Homo sapiens: one gene and its partner. The protein of the gene in region 1 purifies or fractionates together with the protein of each later gene. This does not show direct contact. Each region holds a gene or a part of one and is shown on either strand. Other genes may lie near its edges. The genes, in order: C11orf71 and NACC2.

Region 1 (3,988 bases):
TTACTGGCCCAGCCTACAAACAAAAAGGTGTTTAGAATTTAAATAAAGCAACTAAGGGAAAATACTCAAATTTTACAAATAAGATATGACAAAGTTTAAAAACAACAGAAACGTAATCAGAAACTTCTTTTGAAAATGATGCACGGATTTCCATTTTGGCTACAGTAAACATCCTAGTTATGACTGAACATTAGATTTATTTGGGGAAGGGGGCCCATAAGGAACTGGAAACACAATCACTTTTGCAATTCACAGCACTGTATGGCTTAACATAGTGACCAATCGCCATTATTTTGCCACTCCATGAAAATGAACATTTATCAAGAACAAGAGAATGATTTTCTTTAACTAAAAACGGACTTTTGTATTGATTAATCAAACAATACCAGTTATTAGGGGATAGGGATGGGGGGAATAGGATACTCAGAATTTTTCACACTTTTTAATACAGCAACACTAAAATGCTGTTTTTCTACGGAGTACTTAACCATTTTATTTTACATATTTTAATAATGCTGCAATTTGATAAGCAAACTTTAGGGGAAAACAGACACAAATAAATTAAAATATTAAGTTCCCAGTCAGATAAACCAAAGACAAATTATCCTAAGGGGAAGATGACAACAGGAAGGATAAGAAAAAGCACTGCTCAACGAAGACCCTACACACACACTGTGTTCCCAAGGACCCCTGGATCTCTACCACGGGAAACCTGATCGAGGATCCCTCCACCACCTTTAGTCGTCACTTTCGGCCTAAACGAACCAAGATCTTCCAGGAAAGCGACACCCAGCGAGCGTTTCGCAACCCAGACCCGCCTTTCACCCCCAAACAGCCACCCGTCGGGTCCCCTGACGGCTACGAAAAGAAAACGGGGTGGCCGCTGGCCAGGCCCTAGGCGAGACGGAAAACGAAAGGCAAAGGGCCGAACCCAGCCGCTTACCTGGTGGAAAAGCTCGAAAAGGAGCTCCTCGGTCACTTTCGTTTCAAGGTTGCCCACAAAGAGAGTGCGATCCGCTTCCGCCGCCGCCGCCCCCATCTCAGCGTCGCCCCCTCCCTAACCTGGCCAAAAGGTCGTGGCCGACGCACCCACTGCGCATTCACGGAAGCCCCACGTCCTCACGCTCCCTGGCGTCACAAACGAAAACGCCCGTTGCGCTTGCTCTCAGCGGGCGACGACGTGCGCGGACGGTCTGCGCATGCTCGCCAGGATACCCCTCGTTAAAGGCAAGGCGGCTTCTGGCTCTTCCGCAGGCTCAGTTATGGGTTCCTGTGTGCTTAGTCATCGGGTCCGACACAGGCTGGACTGATCTGGGGAGCCGCGAAGGGCCTGCCTTCACAAAGGGACGTAACGCAAGTACTGCGGGCAGTGTTTGAATATGGCCCTGAACAATGTGTCCCTGTCCTCCGGTGATCAGAGGAGCAGGGTGGCCTACCGCTCTTCCCATGGCGACCTCAGACCGCGGGCGTCAGCGTTGGCGATGGTCTCCGGAGACGGCTTCCTCGTTTCCAGGCCTGAAGCGATTCATCTAGGACCTCGGCAGGCGGTGCGACCAAGCGTTCGGGCCGAGAGCCGTCGAGTGGATGGTGGCGGCCGGAGCCCAAGGGAACCAGATGGCCGGGGCCGGAGCCGCCAAGCCAGATTCTCACCTTACCCAATCCCTGCCGTTGAACCCGATCTCCTAAGAAGTGTGCTGCAACAGCGTTTGATTGCATTAGGAGGTGTTATCGCAGCTCGAATTTCAGTTTAAACGAACACCTTTCCTCTGGCCCTCACTTAGCTTGTGAACAGGCCTTTTTAAAATCCTTTCTTGGTGTAGCAGCAATCGTGTTGTTTTATTTTTAGATGGATGTATTTTCATTTAATACGTGGGAGTTATATGAATATGTCCTAGCACTAAGGGAAGTGTAACAGTTGATTGATTTAGGTGGTTTTATGCAGCCAGAACGATTGGATCAGGAAAGGTGTGGAAGGGATATTCTTAGGTCGTCACAAAGCTGAGCTGATGGGAGCACCCTCCCCAGAGGTCAACAATCCATTCGTTAACTCAGACACTTAACCTTTACCTTTACTTCTGTTGGCGAAAAAGAAGTGCTCCTTTTTATTACACTGATTTATCCTTCCATCTTTTCCTTGGCATTTACCATCTTCCATCTCCCCCTTCACTTTTTTCAGATATGTCTACAAACAGACTCCAATCTCAGTCGCACTAAAAATAAGAACAAAACCTAAACCTTACAGTTCTTTCAAATTATTAAATCAATTTATTATTCCTTTCTTTGGCAAAGGTTCCAAATTTTTACTTTATATTTGTAATTTTACTATTTGCATTCAGTCCCAGCGCATTAATCTGAATCTGCTGTCCTAAAATACACTGGTGAAAACATTACTTGTACAATCTCCTATCAGAAAACTGTTCATCTACTCACTGTAGTGCCCTCCTTGAAATGTGTGTTTGTTCATTCAACTAACAATATTTGGGGATCCCTGTAGTAAACACTGTATGAATTTTACACAGTCTGGCCATCAAGAAAGATCACGGAGTATATTCTAGATGGGGAGGCTACTAAGTGAATAGGAATCACCACGCTGGGCTGTTTATTAGGTACAGTAATAAACATAAGTACTGGTTGCAGTGACTTTTTTTTTTTTTTTTTCATCATAATACTGCACTATCCTGGTTCTTCTCTTACCTGGCTGATCACTCCTTATTTGCTGTTATTTTTGTTCTCTTAACCATACATTTCCCAATGTTTAAAGGGTGGTATTTTGAGAAAGTTAATGGGTTTTGTAAGTGCCAGCTCTTTATATAAGCAGGTAGACTAGCTTTTTCCCAGCAGACGCTTGTCTGTTTAGACTTCCTTAAAATAATTATCTTCAAATAAAGCAAAATCTCCATACACCACATAGTATTGAATTGTTATAACTACGTGTTAAGAAGAATGTTGAGTAAACAAGATAGCTTCCATAAGAGGGTGATTAATATAGTGAGAATTCTAGAAACCAGATCATAGGAAGAATGATTGAAAGAATAGTAATAGCTACCTTTTATTGAGTGCTATGTGCAAGTCAGTGTGCTAGGACTTCTATTGTTTATAGAGATATTTATTGAGAACTTACTCTGTACCTGCTACTGCCTGCGGTAAGCACTTAGAATAAAGTGGTGAACATGATAAAAGTATGTGTTCCTAAGGAACTTTATATGTTATTTGATTCTCACAGCAGCCCATAAGAGGGGTACTCTACTTTCATTTTGTTACTGAAAAACAGCGTGAAGGAGATAAACTTTCCAAGGTCATATAGCTAGTAAATGATAGAGCCCTGCAGCCTTTCAAATGAGGTTCCTCATCTGAATGCAAAAAAAATGACTTGAGTAACTATTTTCTCAATTTTCCCAAGGATAATATATAACTAATTTTTTTTCAGATAACTAAAAAGAAGTTAGTTTGTAATATACAATGGATGGCTTAATCTGGGCATTACAAAAACCCGTGGTTGAGAAAGGAATTCCAAACTATAAACAGAGTGTTAGACTGGGGAAGAAGAATAAAATTAAAGCTGAAGATAAAGAAGCCTTTCTTAAAACTTAGAGATGCCTAGTAGTGGAAAATACCACCTCAAAAGGTAATGAATTAGCTGCCAGAAAGTTCAGAGAGGCTGAATCTTGTGAAGGATTTTGTCAAAGGAATCCTCATAGTGCGAAATATGACTAGATGACTTCTTCATTTTTTCCCATTTAGTATATAATCCTATGCTTTAAAAAATAAACTCGGTTAAAGTTGAAATGGGGAGTTGGGGGATGAGGAGAGAAAAATTAGGTATGACATATTGGGTGACCATATCAGCAAATGAGGGCACTTGGGAGTGGAAGAGGGTGCCATCAATTATGCCAAGGTGACAGGCAGACCAGTTGGCTCATGTAATTATCACCTACAAAATGATTCAGCACTAAATATGCATTGGAAGCATATTTTTTAGCTTATGAGG
Region 2 (3,809 bases), on another chromosome or scaffold:
CTCTTGCTGCTGGAAGGGACAGGCTGAGAGCCTACATTGTCCCTTGCTGTCTGTGTCAGCCCTGGCTGCTGCCCTACCCAGCCCAGGTACTTGGGACCCCCAGGAACCGGTGCGCCGTGCTGGCCTCTGCCTGTCCCCTCTTTTGGTACAAAAGCCCCTGTATGACTCAGACATCCCTACCCCCCCGTCCTTGGGGCGAAGTTGCCCACAACAGAAGCCACGGGCTCTCTGGGAGGCTCCTGGTGGTGGGCGCAGTGGGTCTGTGAAGGGAGCTGTCTAGGGGCCTCTGCCCTCTGTGCTGTGTTGCACAGGCCCCTCTCTTGTACCCCCCTGCCCGGGTTGTGTCCAGCATTCAGCCCTTGCCGAGCTTATGAGGGCACTTGGCAGACTTCCTGGATGAGGCAGAAACTAAGTGGGGACCTGAGGGTGGAGGGTGTGGCGGGGAGGGTGACAGCTGGGCCCTGTGTCTCCTGGCCCGGTGGAGCCCAGCTCATCAGCATGGCCGAGTGGGGACGTTTCTGTAAACGCCCCCATCCCAGTCTCCTTGAGTTGTCACCAGCCCCTTGTAGGAGGCAGAAAACACTAGGCACGAAGCCACCTCCACGGGCCTTTGCCGGCAGCTTCCCCGCACCTGGATCTCTTCCCGTCCCCATTCAGTGGCTTTTTGTCTGGTCTGGAGAAGCTGAGCCCATGGTGTGTGACTAGGGAGGAGCCAGATGGCCCTCTCTCTGGTCTCCGGATGCCTCAGAGGGGCGCCGGGAGTGAGGGGCAGGGCTGTGTCGCCTTGCCTCCCACCAGGCCTGTTCGGGCCTCCTCCGCATCCTGCTGCCAGGGTTACCCCGAGGGTGGTGGAGGCAGCTGGCCAAGCAGGAGGGGGCTCACCTCAAGGCCTCGAGCCTGGACCCTGCCCCTTCTTTTGGGTGGAATGTGCTCTTCCTGGGGGTCACAGCCAGTGGCAGGGAAACTGAGGCTGGGCAGTCCAGAGGTCAGCCTCAGGGCCCCACGCAGAGAGGCTGGTATGAGCCCAGGATGAAGTACACATTCTCTGGAGGGGTCCCGGGGCCACCACAAGTCCTGCACAGCAGCAGCCCCTTCCCAGGAAAAGGCTCAATAACAGCCAGACGCTGCAGACCCCCTTGGGCAGGAGGTGCAGCCTGTGTGGCCGCAGCCAGGAGTGTGCGGGAGGAGCGAGGCGGCCGCTTTGCCCTCTGCTGGGACCTCTCAGGCGGGGCTGCCCCTTCCGGCTCCTGGTTGCCCGGCCACAAAGTCGCTCTTTTCTTAAAGTGCCAGGAGGGCGCTGGGAGTGGGATGGGGAGGGGTGCTGGGGCTGGACTCCCGGGCCTGCCGCCTGGGCAGAGGACACAGCTCTAAGGCCCCCAGGACCTGGGGTGCCGCCTCACCCACCCACTGCCTGCCGTTTCTGTGCCTCTCTTCACCCCCTGCTGTACCTCCCCTCCCCTTCCCTGGCTCCCCTAGCTGTCCTGACCCCCTCACCCCCTCCCCCTGGCGCCTCTGCCCATTCCCCACCCTCGCTGGAGGAGTTCAGCTCTGCCAGCTCTGCAGACTGTTTGGAATAGTTTAAATGCTTTGACACTGGGGCTGTCCTGGAAGGCCGGGAGGCAGTTTACTGGGTAATTCATATGCAAAACTGCACCATAAATTTCCAGGCTGTCTCAGTTGCCGTGGCACCGGGAAGCATTTCTCCACTACTGTACAGTATTTCTGCCATCTTTGTTTGCATTGCAGTGAGTCATCAAAAGTCTGTCTCGTACCAGCACCCGGGGCCGCGCATTCCTCTGGCACCAACACTCCACTGTTTTTAAAGCCGGGGCTGGGAGCTGGCATTTACTTCGGCTCCCAAATCAAAGGCGGCTATTCATTCCCGAGCCGCCGGAACGTTCGTCTGCATCCGGCCCCTTCATTGAGATGCGGTGCGCTGCCCGGGAGGGCCGGCCTGGGTGCAGCTGAGCTGCGGCCGCGAGCCCAGCGCCCAGGCGCTCTGCCCTCCTCCTCCTCCTCCTCCTCCACCATCTCCTCCTCCTCCTCCTCCTCCTCCTCCTCCTCCTTGCCGGCTCCCTGCGCCCTCCCCGCCCCAGGGCTCCCGCTCCGTTTGCTGCATTCGCGGAGCAGCTGGGCAGGCGGGCTGCGTGCGGGGAGCCTGTCCTGCCAGGCGGAGCGGGCAGTGCCGGCCGGCGGCCGCAGCGGCTGAAGGTAGGTCTTCCCGACCGGCCGGCAACTTCTCCGCAGCGGGGGCACTGCGGGCCGCCCCCGGCGCGCGTCCACCTGCCCAGCTCCCGGCGCGGTGGCTCCGCCCTCCTCCCGCCACCCGGCGCCTCTGCGGCCGCCCGCACTTTCCTCCCGTGGGACACAGCGGCCTTTGTGCGGCCCTGCGGAGTTGGGCTGGCGCCTTCTGGGCCGCCCCCGCCCCCTCCGGAGTCCGCACCAGATAAACAGCGGCGCCCTCCCCAGCTCCCAGCCCCGGGGTCCGGGCAGCCCGGCGAGGGCTGGGACCCCTGTAGTCACCTGGGTTGGGGCCGGGCCGTCGGGATTGGCCCGCGTGGGGAGCGAGGCGAGCGGGGTGGGGGGCGTCCGCGAGTGGGGCTGCGACAGGCTTCCCAACTCCTGCCCTGGCGGCGGCTTGGGAACCTGGGTCTGGTCCGAGCCAGGAGAGCACGGGAGAACGGAGCGGGCGCGCCCAGGGTGGTCTCTCTGCGCGAGGGAGGAGTGGACGCGGCTTCAGCGGACTTCCCGGCACCCCCAGCCATTCCCTACCTGCCCGGGAGGCTCAGGGGGACTAGGGGACGCTGGCCCGCCTTCCCCGCAGGGGCCCTCTGCGAGGCTGCTCGGAGGGAAGAGAGGGAAAGCAAACCGCAAACTGCACAGCTCCAGAGACCCCCCTCCCTCCCTCCTTCCCCGCTGCTCCAGCGCGGCCCCTCCCGGGAGCTCCTGTGCGGGCTGGAACTTTTTTGAGGGGAGGAGAGTGGCTGCAGGTTTGCCCAGAGGCTCCCCCGGCGGCCCCCACCTCCTGTCCCGGGGCAGGTTCAGGCCTGCGCTCCTCCTCGCCTGCTGAGACCGAGTCGCTAAGAGCAGCCCCCTGGGAGTGGCGTGGGCGCACTCCTGCCGGGCAGCACCCCGGGGATCTGCAGCAGTGCTGGCCGGGCCCTCTTGCCCGTCTGCCAGGGGGTCTGGGAGACCCCGTGTCCCTTCTCTGGAGTGTCCCAGCCAGGAGGGGCGGGGGAGGGCGCGTGCGGAAGGCTCGCTCTTTGTAAGCCCCCGGCGGGGGAGGAGGGGGTGGGAACGGCCCCTTGAGCGGGGAGCCCGTGACCTGGAGGAACTGACCACGTGCCTCCTGCCCCCCACAGATGAGCCCCGCTAGGGCCGCCCCGCGCTGAGAGCCCAGCCCCGCCGCTGCCCGCCCGCCATGTCTCAGATGCTGCACATCGAGATCCCCAACTTCGGGAACACAGTGCTGGGCTGCCTGAACGAGCAGCGCCTGCTGGGCCTCTACTGCGATGTGTCCATCGTGGTCAAGGGCCAGGCCTTCAAGGCCCACCGGGCGGTGCTGGCCGCCAGCAGCCTCTACTTCCGCGACCTGTTCAGCGGCAACAGCAAGAGCGCCTTCGAGCTGCCCGGCTCCGTGCCGCCCGCCTGCTTCCAGCAGATCCTGTCCTTCTGCTACACGGGCAGGCTCACCATGACGGCCAGCGAGCAGCTCGTGGTCATGTACACGGCCGGCTTCCTGCAGATCCAGCACATCGTGGAGCGCGGCACCGACCTCATGTTCAAGGTGAGCTCGCCCCACTGCGACT

Evidence for each region.
Region 2: the proteins of C11orf71 (region 1) and NACC2 purify together in Homo sapiens (affinity purification with mass spectrometry; one large-scale study listed by BioGRID and IntAct). This does not show direct contact.

What each region holds. Positions count from the first base shown.
Region 1 is NC_000011.10:114,397,723-114,401,710, reverse strand, and holds C11orf71 (uncharacterized protein C11orf71), read left to right. Parts: upstream 1-1,199; 5' UTR 1,200-1,379; coding exon 1,380-1,751; 3' UTR 1,752-3,179; downstream 3,180-3,988. Other genes in the region: RBM7 (RNA-binding protein 7), read right to left, coding at 1-13, 944-1,039.
Region 2 is NC_000009.12:136,050,134-136,053,942, reverse strand, and holds part of NACC2 (nucleus accumbens-associated protein 2), read left to right. Parts: intron 1-3,362; 5' UTR 3,363-3,421; coding exon 3,422-3,809.